2 linked regions of the Homo sapiens genome follow. The protein of the gene in region 2 interacts with the protein of the main gene of each other region in a biochemical or structural test. Each region holds a gene or a part of one and is shown on either strand. Other genes may lie near its edges.

Region 1 (11,024 bases), on a different chromosome or scaffold from region 2:
TTTTTTTTGAGAGATGGAGTCTTGCTCTGTTGCCCAGGCTGGCGTGCAGTGGCGTGATCTTGGCCCACCGCAATCTCCACCTCTGGAGTTCAAGCAATTGTCCTGCGTCAGCGTCCCAAGTACCCGGGACTACAGGCGTGCACCACTATGCCCAGCTAATTTTTGTATTTTTAGTAGAGACGGGGTTTCACTAATATGTTGGCCAGGCTGGTCGCGAACTTCTGACTACAAGTGATCCGCCTGCCTCTGCCTCCCAAAGTGCTGGGATAACAGGCATGGGCCACTGCACCCGGCTTGAGCCACCATGCCCAGCCTTTTTTTTTTTTTTTGATGGAGTCTCACTCTTCTCACCCAGGCAGGAGTGCAATGGGTGAGATCTCAGCTCACTGCAACCTCCACCTCCTGGGTTCAAGCGATTCTCCTGCCTCACCCTCCCGAGTAGCTGGGATTACACACACCCGCCACCACATCCGGCTAAAGTTTTACTTCATTTTTAAAGGAAAATGAATCTTTAAGTAATCCGTTTCAGTCTGAACTAATTTAATTTGGCATATTACGGCATCAGTTGTTGAACTAAAATCAAACTAAAGACCTGTCAAGGCTGGGCACGGTGGCTCACACCTGTAATCCTAGCAGTTTGTGAGGCCAAGGCGAGTGGATCACTTGAGGCCAGGAGTTCGAGAACAGCCTGGCCAACATGGTGAAATGCTGTCTCTACTAAAAATACAAAAATTGGCTGGGTGTGGGGTGGCACATGCCTGTAATCCCAGTTACTGGGGAGGCTGAGGCAGGAGAATCGCTTGAACCTGGGAGGTGGAGGTTGCAGTGAGCTGAGATCGCGCCATTGCACTCCAGCCTGGGTGAAGAAGCGAGACTCTGCCTCAAAAAAAAAAAAAAGAGCTGTCAACAGCCCATTCTGATGTCCACATTAGAAATCAAAATATGTGCCGGGCGCGGTGGCTCACGCCTGTAATCCCAGCACTTTGGGAGGCCGAGGCGGGTGGATCACGAGGTCAGGAGATCGAGACCATCCTGGCTAACACAGTGAAACCCCGTCTCTACTAAAAATACAAAAAATTAGCTGGGCATGGTGGCGGGCGCCTGTAGTCCCAGCTACTCGGGAAGCTGAGGCAGGAGAATGGCGTGAACCCGGGAGGCGGAGCTAGCAGTGAGCCGAGATCGCGCCACTGCACTCTAGCCTGGGCGACAAAGCGAGGCTCTGTCTCAAAAAAAAAAAAAAAGAAAAGAGAAAAGAAATCAAAATATAAAGAAAAAGTTGTGAACAGAAACATTATCAGTAGGAAGAGTATGAAATATGCATTACGCAGGAGAATGGCGTAAACTTAAACATACCACTTTACAATAAAACCTAATTTATTTTTTTTTTATTGTTCAAAATATTGTTGAAATTTCTCCAGCCTGGCTAACATAACAAGATCCTATCTCTAGCAAAAAAAAAAAAAAGAGGATCACTTAAGCCTAGGAATGAGCCTTGAGGCTGCAGTGAGCTATGATCACATTCCACTCCAGCTTGGGTAAGAGAGTGAAACACTGTCTCTAAAATAAATTAAATAATTATTTTTATATATTTAATATATCCAACTGAAAAATAAAAATGTTTAGGAGGATTTAAGTATAATAGATATATTCATATATGTGATACTGAAAGATTTAAGTCACCAGCCTGAGACCTGAGGTCTGAATTCTATTTCTTCCACTTATTCCTCACATGGAACTGCTATTTCTTCAAATCTAAGAGCTCAGGGTCTTTTATTTTTCATGCCTAGGTTTTCCTTAATTTCTCCTTTTATCCTACCTCCCAACTCCCATCAACCAACAGTGTTAACTAAAATTTCCTTGTGGTCGGTCACCGCGGCTCACACCTGTAATCCCAGCACTTTGGGAGGCCAAGGAGGGCGGTTCACTTGAGGTCAGGAGCTCGAAACCAGCCTGGCCAACATGGTGGAACCCCATCTCTACTAAAAACACAAAAATTAGCTGGGCGTGGTGGCATACACCTGTAATCCCAGCTGCTCAGGAGGCTGAGGCAGGAGAATCGCTTGAATCCGGGAGGCAGAGGTTGCAGTGAGCCAAGATCATACCATTGCACTCCAGCCTGGGCAACTGAGCGAGACTCCGTCTCAAAAATAAACAAATAAAAAAAATTTCCTTGCATGTTCTGACTTTCTCTTCCTAAATAAAACAATTAAAACAGTTTTTTTTTTTTTGGTTTTTTTTTTTTTTTTTTTTGAGACAGTTTTACTCCTGTCACCCAGTTCGGAGTGCAGTTGCACGATCTCAGCTCATTGCAGCCTGAACAACCTGAGCTCAAGTGATCCTCCTACCTCAGCCCCCCAAGTAGCTGGGACTACAGGCATTTGCCACTGCGCCTAGCTAATCTTTGTATTTTTCACAAAGACAGGGTTTCACTATGTTGCCCAGGCTGGTCTCAAACTCCTGGGCTCAAGCAATCCACCCACCTCAGCCTCCCAAAGTGCTGGAATTACAGGCATGAGCCACCGTGCCCAGCCAAAAATGACCTACTTTTTTTTTTCAAGACGGAGTCTTGCTCTGCCGCCCAGGCTGGAGTGTAGTGGCACGATCTCGGCTCACTGCAACCTCCACCTTCCAGGTTCAAGCACTTCTCTTGCCTCAGCCTCCTGAGTAGCTGGGACTACAGGCATGTGTCACCATGCCCAGCTAATTTTTGTATTTTTAGTAGAGATGGGATTTCACCATGTTGGCCAGGATGGTCTCAAACTCTTGACCTCATGATCCACCCGCCCCGGCCTCCCAAAGTGTTGGGATTACACGCGTGAGCCACCATGACTGGCCCAAAAAATGATCTACGCTTAAACATGTTCCTCTATTCTAAAACTTTGCAACCGTTTTAATTCTCCCCAAGGGATCCTGGATGTTCTTAAGAGGTGATAAAGAATGGAGCTTGCTGGGTGGGCACAGTGGCTGACACCTGTAATCCAAGCACTTGGAAGGTCGAGGCAGGCGAATCACCTGAGGTCAGGAGTTCGTGACCAGTCTGGCCAACATGGTGAAACACCATCTCTACTAAAAATACAAAAAATTAGCCAGCCGTGATAGGGCGCACCTGTGGTTCCAGCTACTCGGGAGACTGAGGCAAGAGAATCGCCTGCGTCTGGGAGGCAGAGGTTGCAGTAAGCTGAGATCACGCCACTGCACTCCAGTCTGGGTGACACAGGGAGACTCCATCTCAAAAAAAAAAAAAAAAAAGAATGGAGCAGTTAACAAAAAATTTCCTTCTACAAACACATAGTATTCTTAAATGTTAACACCCTCCTTGACCTCTCTTAACCGTCACTCTTTCCTTACTGTCCAAAACAATGAATAACTGCCTCTTTCCTTATATCCCACTTCCCACTCCCAGGCCCCACAAAGGAAACAGGTTTCAACAAGATTGAAATTCTAGAACAGTTTTTGGAGTTGGCAGTAGAGACAGACACTATGAATGAAGTGCAGATTGTTTCTGTTTTCACTAATGGACAATGCAAGTGAGTATCTAATTGAGGTGTGGTAGAAAAGTGGGTGTTTTTGGCAGAGGGAGAAGCAAGATCTCAGCATACTGGAAGTAAGGATAAAAGGGGAGAATTGTAAAAGTTAGACTTCTCCTAATTTCACTTATTTTCCATAAAAGAAATTTCATTATTAGCACAGGTTTGGAATAACCTCCTTTATCTTTTGGGCCTCATTTTCTTCATCTCTAAAATGCTGATACCAATAATACCTTCATCTCACAAAGTTATTGTGAGGATTAAATAACACTTTTCATGGTCTGGGATGGTTGCTATTTTTTTTAAAAAGAAAAAAGATAACACATGCAAAGCTAATAGCACAATGCCTGGCACATATAATAAAAAATGTTAGCTTAAGGCCAGGCGCGGTGGCTCATGCCTGTATTACCAGCACTTTGGGAGGCCGAGGCGACCCGATCACGAGGTCAGGAGATGGAGACCATCCTGGCCAACATGGTGAAATCCCTACTCTACTAAAAATACAAAAATTAGCCAGGCGTGGTGGTGCGTGCCTGTAATCCCAGCTACTCGGGAGGCTGAGGCAGGAGAATCGCTGGAACCAGGGAGTCGGAGGTTGCAGTGAGCCGAGACTGCACCATTGCACTCCAGCTTGGGCGACAGGGCGAGATTCCGTCTCAAAAAAAAAAAAAAGTTAGCTTAAAAGAAACCCGAAAGATGTAGTATCCTTGCTTTCATTCAGAAACATACATAGTTGTTTTAGGTTTTACTGTAAAGTGGTATGTTTAAGTTTACGCAATCCATTCATCAAACATTTCAACTTGGAAATTAAAGGCTACTTTGGAATACTGTTTTAATTAAAATCAAAGCAACAGGGGGAAAAGTTTTATGCTAAATATAACTTCATTGAAAAAGTATTCAGGAATCGTTGTACTGATAAAATGATTATCTTGATTAAAATGATGCAAATTCAACTGCAGTCATATGCAGCTATTTCTTTCAAAATTGTCACCATTTGTTCTTTTTTTCTGACACTACAATACTCTGCTTTCATTAAAAGCCAGTAAGGCGGCACTGCTTCTTCAATATCAAAACCTTTTGGAAACCTTGGTTCAGAGGAAGCTGCACACTCTTCACAGTGCTAGAAAGGATCAGTGTGGTCACTCTAGGACAAATGTCACTGTCATCAACACGTCTGGGTGTCTCATAGTGACCTGGGTCATGCAGAAGTGTGGGGGAAGGCTGGTGTCTGAAACAAAGTCGACAGCTACAGTGCCCTGAAAGGGGAGAGGTTTTAAGAATACTAGAAGATGAGGCTCCGACCTACGGGAAAGCAGTCTCCCGGGGCATATCAATTCCGGGGGTGCACCGTCCCCTCCCGCAGAAAAGGGACGCAGGTGTTGCCCTCCCCCGGCGACCCCACCGCCTTCTTCCCGGCGCCGCCGCCCCCTCCCCCAGCCCCCTAGTTACCTTTCTCATCCTCATCGATGCGCAGGGCAATGGAGATGTACTCGAAGGCCTGTTTGTGGAAGACTCGGACGCGCTCGGCCTCGCCGCCCGGCACCGGCGCCGGGGCCGAGGCCGAGGCAGGTGCTGGCGCGGCCCCGGAGCTCCTCTTGGCTGCCATGAGGGCGCGGGAGAAGCGCTGGCAGAGCCACACGAAGAGGAGCCCCAGGTGGAAGGCGACCAAACGCAGCAGCGCGAAGCCTACAAACAGCGGGTAGGAGAAATAGTACAGGTTCCGCTTATGCGGCGACTCGGGCGGAGGGGCCGGCCCGGCGGCGGGAGGGGCGGGGGCCAGGCAAGGGGGCGGAGGCCTGGGAGGCACCGGGTTGCTGGCGCCGCCGGAGCCTTTCTTCTTCCCTCGTCCACCCGGAGAATTCATTCACAGCTCTCACTGCCGCCGCCGCCATAACCCGCCTCCCGCAGACCGACGGGAACCAAGCGACGGCGGCAGCCACTGCTACGGCGGGGGCCACAGACCCCCGTGTGCCCGCCGGTCTCAGGAGCTCCGCACTGCCGCACGCTGCCCGCCGGCCCCGCCCCTTTCTCCTTCCTCGGCCAGGAGCACAACCCCTTCTCCTCCTGCAGTCGGTGGCTCGGGCCCCTCCCTTCCTGTCGCTGTCCTCTCCGCCGCCTGGTGGCTCCCAGCGGCGGCCGCGCACGCGCACGTCTTCCCGTGTTTTTCTCCGGCGCGCGCGCGCACGGCGCGTCTTTGTTGACCGGGGCCCCTGTACGCGTGTGCGGCCCCCGCCTCTCGGCTTTCCCACTCAACTACAGTTCCCAATGTGCAGTTCGGCTCACGTCGGCAGCCCTGGAGAGCTCCTGCCAGGAAGCCTTCGTAATCGATCCACGGAAGGGGGAATTGCGGCTTGGGGTCGCTCTGCTGGTTCGCTAGGCTCCTCTCTCAGTGTCGTCGTTTTCTTAGATTTCTTTCATCTTTTTCTGCCAGGCGACCTAAGTCTTCTCCGAAGGATAATTGGCCCATCTCAGAAGCAATGGATATCAATCTGGGAATTAAATTAGCCGGGCGTGGGGGCGCGCGCCTGTAGTCCCAGCTGGTTGGAAGGCTAAGGCCGGAGAATCGCTTGAACTCGGGAGGCAGAGGCTGCAAGTGAGCTGAGATCGCGCCACTGCACTCCAGCCTGGGCGACAGAGCGAGACTCCGTCTCCAGAAAAAATAAAATAAAAATTTAAAATCTGGGAATTATTTGAGAGGAAAGCAATTGTGAAGATAAGAAACTTCAGGTCACTGCAAACAACAGCAACAAAAATGTTAGCTCAGTGTGATGAGATCAACTAACCCAGGGGTTTAACTAAATTAGTGCATATTTAGATGTCTAATATGAAAGATAATTTATTTGAATAAGGGAAATCTTAGGTTTTGCATAGTTACCATCCCATAGTTTACTGAAGAATCTACACTTTTTTTTTAATCTACTCAGCATCCCTTCCTTTGGGAAACTACCTGCTTGTCTCTGCTCCCTGTATTCTAATGAGCTGCAAGCACAGAACCCAGACCGCAAAGGCGGAAGCAAACACTAGGTCAGTCAGATTCTCCTGGGACCTGGAATCTTGGCTGGAGACCCACCGAATAGAAAGTAACTGGAAACGAGTGCTCTTAAGAGCGGGTTTATCAATGCATCACATTGAGCTCCCCCAGAGCTGCTGGGTTCCTGACTGGTCACTTGGTTATGTAATCTATCCAATACACTAATCAGTCTGTTTCTCTGTTTCTCTCTTCCTCTCTCCTTTCCCCCTTCCTTCCTTTCGTCTTTTCCTCTCTCTCCCTCTCTCTCTATCTCCACGTCTTTTTTCTCTTCTCTTTCTCTTTTTACTTGAGTTAGCCATAATTATTTCTTGTTTCCTAAAACTAAGGAAGCCAAACTGATAAAAAGACTCCGTTATTTACAATGTGAGGTTTCCAAATGCCCCATGAGAGCTTCCAGCTTCCAAGAATCTCCACATTCTGCCACAGCTTTATTTTTTTATTTTTTGGACAGGGTTTCACTCCATTGCCCAGGCTGGAGTGCAGTGGCGCAAACAACATGACTCACTGCAACCTCCACCTCCCTGGCTCAGGTGATCCTTCCACCTCAGCCTCCCGAGTAGCTGGGATCACAGGCACACGCCACTGGGCCCGACTAATTTTTGTATTCTTTATAGAGCCAGGGTTTCACCATGTTGCCCAGGCTGGTCTCCAACTCCTGGGCTCAAGCAATCCGCCTGCCTCAGCCTTCCAAAGTGTTGGGATTACAGGCATGAGCCACCCCATCGCGCCCCCAGCTAATTTTTTTACTTTTTTGTTGAGACAGGGTCTTGCTATGTTTCCCAGGTTGGTCTTGAATTCCTGGGCTCAAGCAACCTGCCCGCCTCGGCCTCCCAAAGTGCTGGGATTACAGGCATGAGCCACAGCACCAGCCAATTTTACTTAATTATTCCCCGCCAGTACTGCCCTACAAATGTCACAGGCTATTGCAAAAATGACCTACTCCCTGTTTCCCTCTTATTGCTCCCCCTTCTCTGTGCTTATGCTAGACCCTCATTCTGAAATGCCCTCTTTCGGCCGGGTGTGGTGGCTCACGCCTGTAATCCCAGAACTTTGGGAGCCGAGGCGAGCAGATCACCGGAGGTCAGGAGTTCAAGAGCAGCCTGGCTAACATGGCAAAACTCCCTCTATACTAAAAATACAAAAGTTAGACAGGTGCATTCCTGTGGTGGTGGTGCATTCCTGTAATCTCAACTAGTGCGAGGCTGAGGCAGGAGAATCACTTGAACCTGGGAGGCTGAGGCCGCGGTGAGCCAAGATCATGCCAATGCACTGCAGCCTGGGCGACAGAGCGAGACTCTGTCTCAAAAGCAAACAACAAAAAATTTTTTTTAATGAAATGCCCTCTTTTAAATCTGATTCAGGGCCTGGCACGGTGGCTCACACCTGTAATCCCAACACTTTGGGAGGCCAAGGCAGGCGGATCACCTGAGGTCGGGAGTTCGAGACCAGCCTGACCAACATGGAGAAACCCTTTCTCTATTAAAAATACAAAACTAGCCGGGCATGGTGGCGCATGCCTGTAATCCCAGCTACTCGGGAGGCTGAGGCAGGAGAATCACTTGAACCCAGGAAGTGGAGGTTGCAGTGAGCCAAGATAGTGCCATTGCACTCCAGCCTGGGCAACAAGAGCGAAACTCCATCTCAAAAAAAAAAATTACATTTATACATATATCATATAAACAAGAAGTGTGTTACTTAAATGCACAATTTAAAGAAAAATAATAAGCAGCATTCCATTTAAGAAAAATGAATGTAACCAACTCCTCGAAGCACTCTGTGAGCTCCTCCCTAATCTCAATGTCTTGTCTCTTCCTCTAGAGGAAGCCACTATCCTGAATTTTATATTAATCATTCTAGTGTCTCATTTTTAGTTTGCAGTGTATTTATGTATTTCTAAACAATGTCTTGTATGATTTTGCCTCACTTTGACTTTATGGAAATGTAATCATATTTCAAGTATCCCTTGTTTGCTTTCCCTCCTCAAAATTTTTAAAATTTCATTTATTTTATTTTAAGAAAATAGAGATGGAGTCTCACTGTTGCCCAGGTTGATCTCGAACCCCTGGGCTCAAGTAATCCTCCTGTCTTGGTCTCCCAAAGTGCTGGGATTACAGGCATAAACCGCTATGCCTGGCTACCTACTTAATAATTAAGTGTTGAAATTCCTCCCTGTTGATTTCTATAACTGTGGTACATTTTCACTGCTATATAGTATTCCATTATATGAATTTACCACAACCTATTTTACTGTTCAACTATTGATGGATATTTAGTTTGATGCCAGTTTTTTTTCTTAAATAACTATCTTCCCTGTTATCCCTCCAGTCTTTACCACTAAAGAAAGTAACTTACTTTCTAACTTAGCCAAGATAGGGCCCAATAGTAGAATGGTTAAATGGTCCTGGAGTCAGACTGGTTGCATTTAGATCTGTGTTCCATCACTTTCGGTGATCTTGGATGAGTTACTCAGCTTCCACATCTACAGTATAACACTAGAGTAGTAAGCAGTGCCTGGAATCAAGTTGATACTTGATTATTTTTTTATTTTTTGTTTTTTTTAATTTTTTTAAATTATCTATTTTTTGTTTTAAAAGTTCTTTTGTAGAGACAAGGTCTCTCTCACCGTGTTGCCCAAGCCAGTTTTGAACTCCAGCCCTCAAGCAATCCTCCCACTTCAGCCTTCCAAAGTGCTAGGATTACAGGCATGAGCCACCATGTTCAGTTTATTTCTATTTTTATTTTATTTTTTACTCACCATGATACTAACAAGGAGATTTGTTGGTTTTTTGTTTTTGTTTTTGTTTTTGAGACAAGGTCTCACTCTGTCACCCAAGCTGGAGTACAGTGGCGCCATCAGAGCTCACTGCAGCCTTGACCTCCCTGGCTCAAACCACCCTCTTGCCTCAGCCTCCTGAGTAACTGGGACTACAGGCATGCACCACCATGCTGGGGTAGTTTTTTTTAAAATTTATTTATTTTTTAAGATGGAGTCTCGCTCTGTCGCCAGACTGGAGTGCAGTGGTGCGATCTCGGCTCACTGCAACCTCCGACTCCCTGGTTCAAGCGATTCTCCTGCCTCAGCCTCCCGAGTAGCTGGGATTACAGGGATGTGCCACCATGCCCAGCTAATTTTGTATTTTTAATAGAGATGGGGTTTCTCCATGTTGTCCAGGAGGGTCTTGATCTCCTGACCTCGTGATCCGCCCGCCTCAGCCTACCAAAGTTCTGGGATTACAGGTGTGAGCCACTGCATCTGTCTGAATTTTTTGTTTTTTAGTTGAGATGAGGTCTCACTATGTTGCCCCAGATGGTCTTGAATTCCTGAGCTCAAGTGATCCACTCACCTTGACCTCCCAAAATGCTGGGATTACAGGCATGAGCCACTATGCTTGGCCATGAGGAAGATAGTTTTTGAATAAAGAATGGTTCTCCGACATTTCCTCTGCACTTTCACTATACTCTAGCTAATATAGACTGTTGGTCTGTACCTACTTTGCTCTTTTCCAGGACTACAATTACTCTCCTGTCATTTTTCATTCACTTAGAATGGCCTCGCCTCCTACTTCCACTGTCAAAGTCCTTCAAGACTTACCTCTAATGTTATATTTTTTTTTTTTTTTTTTTTTTTGAGACTGAGTCTCACTCTGTCACCCAGGCTGGAGTGCCATGGCACGATCTCAGCTCAATGCAACCTCTGCTTCCCATGTTCAAGTGGTTCTCCTGCCTCAGCCTCCTGAGTAGCTGCGACTACAGACGCGTGCCACCACGCCCGGCTAATTTCTTGTATTTTTAGTAGAGACGGGTTCATCGTGTTAGCCAGGATGGTCTCGAACTCCTGACCTTGTGATCCACCTTCCTTGGCCTCCCAAAGTGCTGGGATTACAGGTGTGAGCCACCGCGTCCAGCTCTGTTATATTCTTGATAAATTATTCCATTATCACCTCCAGCAGAAATGATCTTGTTTTTCAGTTGTTATGACAATATGGTTGTGTTACTCTGTGGCTCTTATACTATATTGCCCTGCAGGATGATTATTTAAACACTTCATCACCTCTTGATATAGATTGTAAACTTACTGAAGGCAGTGGTCACACTTTATACATTTTGCCTCACTTTTTGCATCCAGCCTGACACCTTGCTTATGGTACTCATTTAATAAATATGAGAAATTTGAAAAATGATTCAAACATAATGATTGTGTTAGATTTCTGATGCTATGTAATATACCACTCCAAAACTCACTGGCTTAAGATAGCAGACATTTATTTACACACAACTTTGTGACTCAGCAATTTGGGGTAAGTTCAGCTGGATGGTTCTTCTGATGGCCTTGCCTGTGGATCATTCCTGTGGATGTAGTCATCTGATGGCTTGACCGAATGGCTGTATGGCCTAGCTAGCCTCATTCATATGTTCAGAGGTTGATTGTGGCTATTAGCTGGGACATATGTCTCTAGCAGGATAGC
Region 2 (11,125 bases):
GTCTCGCCCTGTCACCCAGGTTGGAGTGCAGTGGCGCAATCTCGGCTCACTGCAAGTGCTCTGCCTCCTGGGTTCACGCCATTCTCCTGCCTCAGCCTCCCGAGTAGCTGGGACTACAGGCGCCTGCCACCATGCCCGGCTAATTTTTTGTATTTTTAGTAGAGACGGGGTTTCACCGTGTTAGCCAGGATGGTCTCGATCTCCTGACCTCGTGATCCGCCCGCCTCGGCCTCCCAAAGTGCTGGGATTACAGGCGTGAGCCACCGTGCCTGGCCAATATATATAATTTTTATTTGTCAACTGAAAGAAAAGTTAATTTTTAAAAGTTGATTAAGTAGGTTATAACCATGACTTTTTTTTTTATGACTTTTACTTTAAAGTCCTTTATTTAATAAATTCAGTCTTCCTTCCTCCTTCTGTTTACCCTGTCTTGGTTGTCCTAATCATATATGACGCCCTTGTTGCTGGTTCACTAGCTCCATTCTCTATGCTTGCTTGTAATTTTAGTCTTGACTCACTCATCCTAACTGCTTTGCCTTTTCTGCCTTTTTAAGCTATCTTACCTTTTTTTATTGATCTGCCCTGTTCCTTGGCCACTCTCTTTTTGCTTTTGCCAGTGGATTGAAAATATCTAAAAATAGTCTTAAAATCTTTTATGCTATGGATTCTATGGTTCTAATAAAACTCTACAAGGATTTTCAGGACAATTTAGAAAGCCCACAATAACCTCAAAAATAAGACTTTTAAAAAAGTGAAAGAAAAAAGGAAAGGAAAGAAAGATAAATTTTATATATAAGCTATTTACTTTCCTAAATGTACATTAAGGTGTTTTTAAAAGCTATGAACACATGTAAATGTTTTTACATTTAGAAATGTTTCTACTGGCTATGTAGAACAAAATTTATATTTATAAACACTGTTTCATTAAACATAACTTACAATAGATGGTCTCAATGTATACGCATATAAGATTTATGTTACTGAGTTTATTGTAGGCTTTAAACAACAACAACAAAAATCCCAATAAGATAATATGACCTTTTCTAACCAAAGCAGTCAATTTGAAAGTTTGTCAGTAATTAAACTACAGTAACAAAAACAATTCCACTCTCACAGAAATCACGAGAACTCGTATGCTAATTGAGTCAAACAATATATATGATTCCCAATTTCTGTTGTTTATCTAATTATAACATGTATGTAGAAACACATATACTCATAATTTTTAGTTAAAGAAACATCATCAAAATGGGCTTATTTCATACCTGTATTGAGCTGATCATTGTGCTAAGGGCAAATACTGTGGCTGAATCTCTCAAAGTTGACTGACTATCAAAGGTTCCCTGAGTATCCATCAATAACACTGCAACCTACAGGCAAGAAGAGTACATTATTGATATTTTATAGAACATCTAGGTCATTAGGGTTACCATAATATTAATATAAGAACTAAAGCAAACCATTATTAATCAATACTATTTTAGATAATTTCTTACACATGCCATGAATGCCACAGAAAATAAAAATATTAACAGCTGATTACTATTATAAGTAATTTTTACTAGTAATCCAACGTAACAGAAACTTTATGTAGCAGTGAAACAAAATACAGATGTTACTTGCTGATCTGCTGTTCTATCATCGTTATAATTTCGCCTACTCTGATCACAAGAAAGGGAAACAAAGATCATGCTATAGGATGCTACCCCACTTTAAGCTTCATGTCAAATGGTCAAAATTAATTTTCAAAAGTGCAACTTCAAGGATCCTAAAAAGTAGTAACTGTTATAAGTGAAAACTCAATTTTATTTAGGAAGTTAGCATCATACCTTTTTACCATCAGGTTTATTGATAAGGAAGATTTCACTCCATATCTGAATTCCTGTGGTCTCTCGCTCAGATCCACCTCTCCATGAAAAACCAGTCAATGGTTCATTGTAGTCTCCAACCCAATCAACTGATTCCTATAAAATGATAAAGTCTATGATATGGAACTTGATATGTGTATATAGTTTTTTCCATTCATTCATTCTGATTCTTATCCCTCTCCAATTCGAGTTAAAAGGAAACAACATATGCACATCTATTGCATTGATACCATCACTTTATTCATCCAAAAAATAATTACAGAGGAGCAACCATCTGCCACATTTTTGATATGTCCTGGGGATATAAAAATGAAAAGATATCATTGCAGACCAGAGGAAATTCACAGCCTAACAGCGAGACAGACATGCAAACAAACCATTATGATGCAATAAATGCATGCCAAAATGGAAGTATATATAATGCATAAATGGTAGCATAGAAAATAAATAACTAACCATTGGTCAGGCAAGACCACATAGGATGTTTGAGCTAAGACTTGAAAAATATTTAGGAATTTTCCAGGGAAGCAAATTTGGAGAAGGCATTCCAGAAAGGAAGGCAAGCAGGCAGGCAGGCAGAAAGGAAGGAAGTAGGGAGCATATTATGCTTTGGTTTTGTGGGAGGAGGAAGCAAGTAGCAGGAAGAGGCTGGACAGACAGCCAGATTCTGAAAGACCTTGTAAGGTCCTTAAGGGAGTCAGATTTTATCCTGCAGGCGACGGAAAGTTATGAAGAAGCAGAGATGAATTATCATCATAGTTGTGGTAGAAAGATACTATTCTAGAAGTAGGTAGGGCTAGTTAGTAGGGAAGGGAAATGATAGCTAGAAAAGATAAAGGTGGGGGTGCTATAATAAAGGTCAAAAATATGATTGAAGGTCTGACCAGGGCCAGGACAGCAGGAAGGAATAGACAAGTACTGATGCAAGTGGAGTTTGAGAAGCCAAAGGAAGACAGAATAGGAAAAATTATCAATTGTTTAAAGGCTGAAGATCAAGTTGGATAAGGCATGGAAAATATCCCATAGATTTAGTAAGTCAGTAATTGGTGACCTTGGTTGATAGTAGTTACCCCCATTTTGATATCTGTTACAGAGAATAAGTTATTAGTTTTTGGAAGATCTCATTAGATAATTGTCCAATCTAAAACCTTACAGTAACGAATGCAGAGGAATTTGGGAGAGGACTACTTGGACTGATAAAAAATCTACATAAACTAATTTAAAGAAAAATGTATTTAATTATATCCTATCTTGTTCTAAAAGGCATTTTAGACCGTTATCAAGAGCTTTGGTTCTTCTGTGAATTTGTTCTATTATCTGGCTCAATAACCTATTCAATCTTATTTCTTCTTCATCTCCAATACTTAATTTCCACTCTAGGGAAGAAGGTGTACACTCTGTTTAATACATATATTATACTTATTCCTCATAGTCCAGAATGTCCATTCTTCCTTTTCTGGTCCAGATCCACACATCTTCAAAATCTATTCTAACTTCCAATATCTCTATGAAGCTTTCTCCAGTTACTTTTGCCTACAATATGCCCTTCCCTGAACTACACTTAGAAATACGTCGATCAGGCTGGGCATGGTGGCTCATGTCTGTAATCTCAGCACTTTGGGAGGCCGAGGCAGGTGGATCACAAGGTTAGGAGTTTGAGACCAGCCTGGTCAACATAGTGAAACCCTGTCTCTACTAAAAATACAAAAAATTATCCAGATGTGGTGGCGCATGCTTGTAATCCCAGCTACTTGGGAGGCTGAGGCAGGAGAATCCTTGAACCCGGGAGGCAGAGGTTGCAGTGAACCAAGATTGCGCCACTGCATTCCAGCCTGGGTAACAAGAGTGAAACTCTGTATCAAAAAAAAAAAAAAAAAAAAAGAAAGAAAGAAAAGAAAAAATATATCTGTCACCATATCACCATGTAATGATGCTCTAAATATTTCACCTATTGTTATTCTGTCTCCTTGGCCAAACCATGAGATGCCTAAGTGCAAAATCTATGGTATGTTTTCTTTGGTATCCACCATAGTGCCTAGCACAATCTAGAACATTTAGCAGGTAGTCAATAAATAATTACTATTGAGGTAGAAATTGAAATTTTTCCAATAAGGTATTACCTGGAAAAATGTCTTGGGATGCATACTTCAATGAATAAATTGTGATTATTATTAATTAGCATAATAACATTTCCATAACATTCACTCTGAGTCAATGATCTACATTGAGATATTCATAAAAATCCTAAGCCTGAAAAATAACCTTGAAGGACAAGGAAAACATACCCAGCTAATTTTTGTGTGTTTTTTTTTAGTAGAGACAGGGTTTCACCATGTTGGCCAGGATGGTATTGATCTCTTGACCTCGTGATCCACCCACCTCGGCCTCCCAAAGTGCTGGGATTACAGGCGTGAGCCACAGTGCCCGGCCAGCAATTTATTTTCAAATGCATCAAAGAATAACTTGGAGTGATGGCTGGAAAGAGGGATGAATAGATGGAGTCATAAGTGATAAAGCAGGAATACTAATGTTAATGGTAGAATCTGGGTGGTGGATACCAAGATGTTTAGTATAAAATTTTTTTAACTTTGCTATATGCTTGAAATATTTCATACTAAATGTTGGAAAAAAGTGATTACAATACAAAAATTATGTGACATTTTAAACACTATAACATTTAAGTCTATAATCAGAATATTATGTGCCTATTTTTAAAAGAATAAAAATATAAGTTATATTCTAAGGGAAATGCAGCAAAGCAGCTTCAGAGAAAATTGGTCTGTGTAGTTTGGTCCCCAAAGCACTGAGGTTGGAATGGTTACACCACAGCATTTCTTTAGCTGGTTCATATATAGGGTACATAATAATAGAAATGAAAATTTTGAACACCATGAAATAAAAACATGAAGTGACAGAAGCACAGAAGAAAGAAAACTTTTTAAAGTACTTCCTGCATACCTGGTTGTACATGTATCTCAACATGAAGTCCATCAGGAATGATTTTCCTTTTCTAAATGCTCCAGCAACAGATACAGCAACAACCTCCTTGTCTCTGACAGCCTCCGAGAGAAGGATCCGATTTAATGCAGTTTCATCTAACTCAAAGGAATGGTCATCTTTGACAATGAGGACTTGGACTGGTCCTGCCTTTTTCACTGGCTCCTCCTCTTCTGAGCTCCATTCATATGTCTTTTCCGAAAATCCACCTGTTGAACAGAGCAGTGACTGGTTCAGCTAATCATCTCAAAGTGCCAAGAAATGTATATGTACCTCTTAACTCTCAAACATCCGACACAGGAGCATACTGGAATTATAAATGCTCATTTTATGCTGGGTGCAGTGGCTCATGCCTGTAATCCTAGCACCTTGGGAGGCTGAGGTGGGAGGATCGCTTGAGCCCAGGAGTCAAGAGCACCCTGGGCAACATAGTGAGATCCTGTCTATACAAAAAATTTTAAAATTCGTCAGGTGTGGTAGCACGTGCCTGTGGTCCCAGCTCTCAGGAGGCGGGGGTGGGAGGATCACTTGAGCCCAGGAGGTCAAGGCTACAGTGAGATATGATTGTGCCACTGCACTCCAGCCTGGACAATAGAGGGAGACCCTGTCTCAAAAAAGAAAAAGAAAAAAAGAAAGAAAGAAAAGAAATGTTTGTTTTAATGACATATTTTAATGTCATTCACACTATATCCCAGGAGGACTTACATTTGTTCTTTCTGATCATATGACTGAATCAAAAAAATTTTTCAAGAAAACTCTAAGTCAGTGCAGATGTCTCTGTCTGCTGAGTCAGAAAGAAAATCAAAGCAAAGCACTCTACTTTTGGAGCAGAGGAATAAAATGGTTGTAGTTCACACTTTCTTTATCCCCTAGAAATAGCTTATTTACATAAAGGATCCTTGCAATACTTTTTAAAGCTGAACATATATAGGAAGAAATACCTAGAAGGGCTCAGAATCACAGATTCTCAAGCATGCTATTGGTATTATTATAGATGAGGAAATTAAAGCCAAAGATGTGACTGACCTTGCCCAAGAGATGGAAATGGAATTTAGAAGGAAGGAAATGGTAGACTTCCTCATATAGGATTTCTATATCTTTCTCATGTTATTTATTTAATCTTTGTAATGTTCCAGTACGGTATTTATTATTATCTGTATTTTTGACACATGAGAAAATTAAGAATCTAATTAAATTTCCCAAGAGCACAACTATTAGAAAGTGACAGATTACAGGTCCAAGTTCACATGGACGGTAACTGCCAAACTGGGATTAGATTGCAAGAGTCAAAACTTTCATCCCAGATCTTTCTACTACAATAAAAAAAAAAAAATTCTGCCTCTTTGGTAGCAATCAAATAACTTTTGGACAACACATACATAGGCTCGTTTGCTTTATATCATAAGAACAGAAAGTCTATACATACACCAATTAATTCCTCAGATCAGATATATGACCTAGCCTCAAAGAAACCCTCAATAATTGCTATTGTAGAAACCTTAATCCCCAATGTTAGAGATGAGGCCTTTGGGAGGCCTTAGATTATGCTTAGATTAAGTTACGAGGGTCTCCCATCATAGAGTTAGTTCCCTTATAAGAAAATTAAGGAACCAGAGCCCCTTTTCTCTGAATTATGAGGATACACGAAGAAAGCAGTCTATGAACCAGGAGGAAGACCCTTACAAAAAAACCCAGCCCTGCTGGCAGTCTCATCTCATCCAGCTGCCAGAACTGTGAGAAATAAATGTTTGTTGTTTAAGCCACCCCAGTCTATGATTTTCTGTTACAGCAGCCCAGAGTGACTAAGACAATGATAATAATTTTGAAACAAACTGGACTCTTAAATAATCTTTTATCTAAATTTTTGAAAATATCTTTAGGTAGACATTCTTCATGATGTCTATTTGATAAGAAGTTTTATAACTAGATAAAAGCAAGGCAATCATCTCTTGGCATAATTTTAAATAAGTCTTCAGATCACATTGATATATATATATCACATTGATAACTTTATTGCTGTTCATCTATAAAATAATGCTATTGAAATACTGAAAATATATAATTTTAGTTTTGCATGAGTAGAGATAAGTATACACCACTACTTTCTGAACAATCATACAAAGCATCTAGAGACAACAGACCATTGCCTATAGCCACGAATCAGAGTTGTTCTCTCTGCAAAGTTAAGAAAAGTTGACTTTTTATCTGAAAGATAATAGCTTCTATATTGCCATTTCACAGGTGCTGGAGTCAGAGAGCCTTTGTTTAAATCCCAGCCTTACAATTTACAACATAAAGTTGTGGAAATTATTTAGCTTCCCAATGGCTCACTATGCTCCATTTTAAAAAGATTCATAATGGTACCCATATCAGAAAGCCTTTGTGAAGACTTAACAAAGTAATTTCCATTAAATAAAGATTGAAGAATCTGACAAATAGTACATGCTTAATGAATGGTGACTGTTATTAATACTATTATCTATTCATGTCTGATTACAGTCCTACCTACCACCTAATTTCAGTCTCAGTACAAAGGCCCTTTTTGAGAATAGCAAATACATATTTTATTTGATGACGCTCCTTGCCTATGATTTAATTATGATCTGAGCACACAAATGTGAATCACAGACCCAAGCTAGACATAATATTTTGGATAGAGAAACAGCTTTGGGGCAGAAAACTAGATCATAACTTTCTATAGACTGAAATAATTGTTTGCAACAAACTACACATATGCAAAAGGTACTGGAGAATGCACATAGAAATGGAATTTCTGGGTTGTAAGTTTTTCAAATATTCAACTTTAAAACATGGAGCAAAATTGTCTTTTTCTAAGTGGCTATATAAATGTTTCACTTCCGCCAGCAATTTAACATCCTATTGATCCATATCCTTTCTAACACTTGGTTTTATCTGACTTTGTTTTTGTCAGTTGCAGAGGTATAAAATGTTATCTCACTGTGGTCTTGATATACATTTCTCTAATTGCTAATAAGATAAGTACTCCTTTTATCCGTTTTTCTATTAGGTAGTTTGTCTTTTTCTTACTGATTTGTAGTTCTTTATGTATTTTGAATGCTATCCCTTTGTTAGTTACATGCATAGCAAGAGTCTTCTAGTTTCTAAGAGTTTGCCTTTTCATTTTCCTTAAGCTATAATTGATGAAAAGGCATTCTTAATTTTAATGTAATAGATTTTATTAATATTTTCTTTTATGGTTAACATTTTGTATACCATGTTTAAGAAATGATTCCACATACAAGATCTGAAAGATAGTCATATATATTCTATTTTATTTTATTTTATTTTTTATTTATTTATTTATTTTTTTGAGACAGAGTCTCGTTCTGTCGCCCAGGCTGGAGTGCAGTGGCGCGATCTCGGCTCACTGCAAGCTCCGCCTCCCGGGTTCACGCCATTCTCCTGCTTCAGCCTCCTGAATAGCTGGGACTACAGGTGCCCGCCACCTCGCATTTTTTATTTTTTATTTTTTTATTTTTAGTAGAGACAAGGTTTCACCATGTTAGCCAGGATGGTCTCGATCTCCTGACCTCGTGATCTGCCCGCCTCGGCCTCCCAAAGTGCTGGGATTACAGGCGTGAGCCACCGCGCCCGGCCAATAGTCACATATATTCTTCTAAGTTTATTTGTTTGTTGTTTTTTGAGACAGGGTCTCACTCTGTTACCCAGGCAGAGTGCAGTGGTGTGAGCTCAGCTCACTGCAACCTCTGCTTCCTGAGCTCAATCGATCCTCCCACCTCAACCTCCCGAGTAGATGGGACTACAGGCACACACAACCACCAAGTCCCACTAATTTCTGTATTTTTTGTAGAGATGGGGTCTCACCATGTTGCTCAGGCTGGTCTCAAATTCCTGGACTCAAGTGATCCACGTGCCTTGGCCTCCCAAAGTGCTGGCATTACAGGGATGAACCACGGTGCCCAGACTTTTCTATGTTTTAAAGTTTGCTTTTGATACTTAAGTTCCTAGTCCATCAGAAGTTGTTATTTGTAGGGTGGAAGATAAAAGCCATTTCTTTTTTAAATATGAGAAACAAATTTTTTCAGAGCTCTGTCAAAGCCCCTTCTTTCCTCAAGTGGTCTGCCATGAGATCTTTGTCATAAGTAAGAGTTTTACACAAACACACACCCCCACATACACACTGACTCATTTCTGAGCTCTCAGTTCTGATCCATTCATCAATTTCTCTACACCAGCACCAATTTTACACTATCCTATTCAAAATAGCTTCATAAAAAGTTACTGTATATAATATGGCAAGCACCTCCTATCCTTCTAATTATTATTGGTCTTGGCTATTTTAACCCTTTCCATATAAATATTAAAATCAATCTGTTAGTTGAACTCTTTACTGAAGTTACATTTATAGATCAGTTTGAAATGAATCAGTACCTTCATGCTATTAAGTCTTCTAATACATTAACATGATCTAGCTCTCCATCTATGTTTGGTCTTTAATTCCCTTTGGTAATGTTTTTATAATTTGGGGGAGTAGGAAGAGGTTTATTACATTTAGTCCCAGGTGCACTGTAGTTTTTGTTGCTAACTATGACTGGTTTATTTGTTGTTGTTTTAGTTATACTTTCTAGTTGTTGTTTGGATAAAGAACTATAATTAGCTTTAATGCATTGGTCTCATATTGAAGCATTTACTAAACTTTATTATTTCCTGTAAAATTTATGTAGATACTTTTGGGTTTTTTAAATGTAGAAACAGAAATACAATTTTCAAATAATGACAGTTTCCAACTTTTCAATCTTTATGTATGTCTTTTCTTTTTCTTAACTTATTAGACATTCAAGGCAATGTTGAATAGAAGAGGTGATAATGGGCATAACTTTTGATTTCAGTAGGCATAACTTCCTGATTTTAAAGGGAATGTCTCCAATATTTGCCTATTGGGGTTACTTTTGTTACAGTTTTGTTGGGCTTGGTTTGGTAGATACATTTTATCATATCAGATGAAGGAAATTCTATGTGTAGTTTACTAAGGGTTTCTAAAAATCACAAACAAATAATGAATTTTATCAAATAATCTCTTCTGCATCTATTGAGGTGATCATATAGCTTTTCACATCCAACATATCAGTGTAGCAAATAATATATATTTGCACTTTTTATATAAACCTAATAGTCTCAGGGTATAGTATAATGTTGGATTCAGTTTGCTAAGATTTTGTTTAGGAATTGTGCATGTATATTCATAAATGAGTTGCCTATGACTTTCCTTTCTTATTTTGTCCTTGGGTGGTTTTATTATATAAGTTATGCAAGCTTTATAAAATGAATTAGCAGCTGGGCATGGTGGCTTACACTTGTAATCCCAGCACTTTGGGAGGCCGAGGCGGGTGGATCATTTGAGGTCAAGAGTTTGAGACCAACCTGGCCAAGATGGTGAAACCCCGTCTCTACTAAAAAAAAAAAAAAACAACAACACAAAAATTATCTAGGCATGGTGGTGCGTGCCTGTAGTCCCAACTACTTGAGAGGCTGAGGCAGGAGAATCACTTGAACCCACAAGGCAGAGGTTGCAGTGAGCTGAGATCACACCACTGCACGCCAGCCTGGGTGACAGAGTGAGACTCCGTCTTATGGAAAAAAAAAAAAAGAGAAAAGTTTGTAATAAAAGATTGGAGTGAACGGTTCTTTGAAATTTTGATAGAACTCACCTGTAAAACTTTGTGAACCTGGTGTTTTCTTTGTGAGATGATTTTTAACTGTCATTTAAATTTCTTTTGTTGAGATGGAGACTCACTCTGTCACCCAGGCTAGAGTGCAGTGGCGCGATCTCGGCTCACTGCAACCTCTGCCTCCCGGGTTTAAGCAATTCTGCCTCAGCCTCCCAAGTATCTGGAACTACAGGCACGTGCCACCATGCCCGGCTAATTTTTTGTATTTTTAGTAGAGATGGGGTTTCACCATGTTGGCCAGGCTGGTCTCAAACTCCTGACCTCAAGTGATCCGCCCGCCTCGGCCTCCCAAAGTGCTGGGATTACAGTCATGAGCCACCGCGACTGGCCATTTCAATTTCTTTAATAGTTATTATTGCTATTGTGATATTAGTACCAATAAAGCTTGATAGTTCTTGAAATACTTCTAGTTCATTCTATCTTTCTAGGAATTTTCTTTTCACTGCCTTAAAATTCAGACAAAAATCAGTAAATATGCAGATTTGAACAGCATCATTAGCCAGTAGCCAGCCTTACCTATCTGACATCTAGTAATTATAGAACCACACA

The links.
Region 1: the proteins of ATL1 (region 2) and SPAST form a complex in vitro, tested with the Homo sapiens proteins (one study listed by IntAct).

The regions. Positions count from the first base shown.
Region 1 is NC_000002.12:32,058,199-32,069,222, reverse strand, and holds the start of SPAST (spastin), read right to left. Parts: upstream 5,668-11,024; 5' UTR 5,392-5,667; coding exon 4,977-5,391; intron 1-4,976. UniProt on the Homo sapiens protein: ATP-dependent microtubule severing protein that specifically recognizes and cuts microtubules that are polyglutamylated.
Region 2 is NC_000014.9:50,581,780-50,592,904, reverse strand, and holds part of ATL1 (atlastin-1), read right to left. Parts: intron 5,075-11,125; coding exon 4,827-5,074; intron 1,965-4,826; coding exon 1,830-1,964; intron 1,371-1,829; coding exon 1,266-1,370; intron 1-1,265.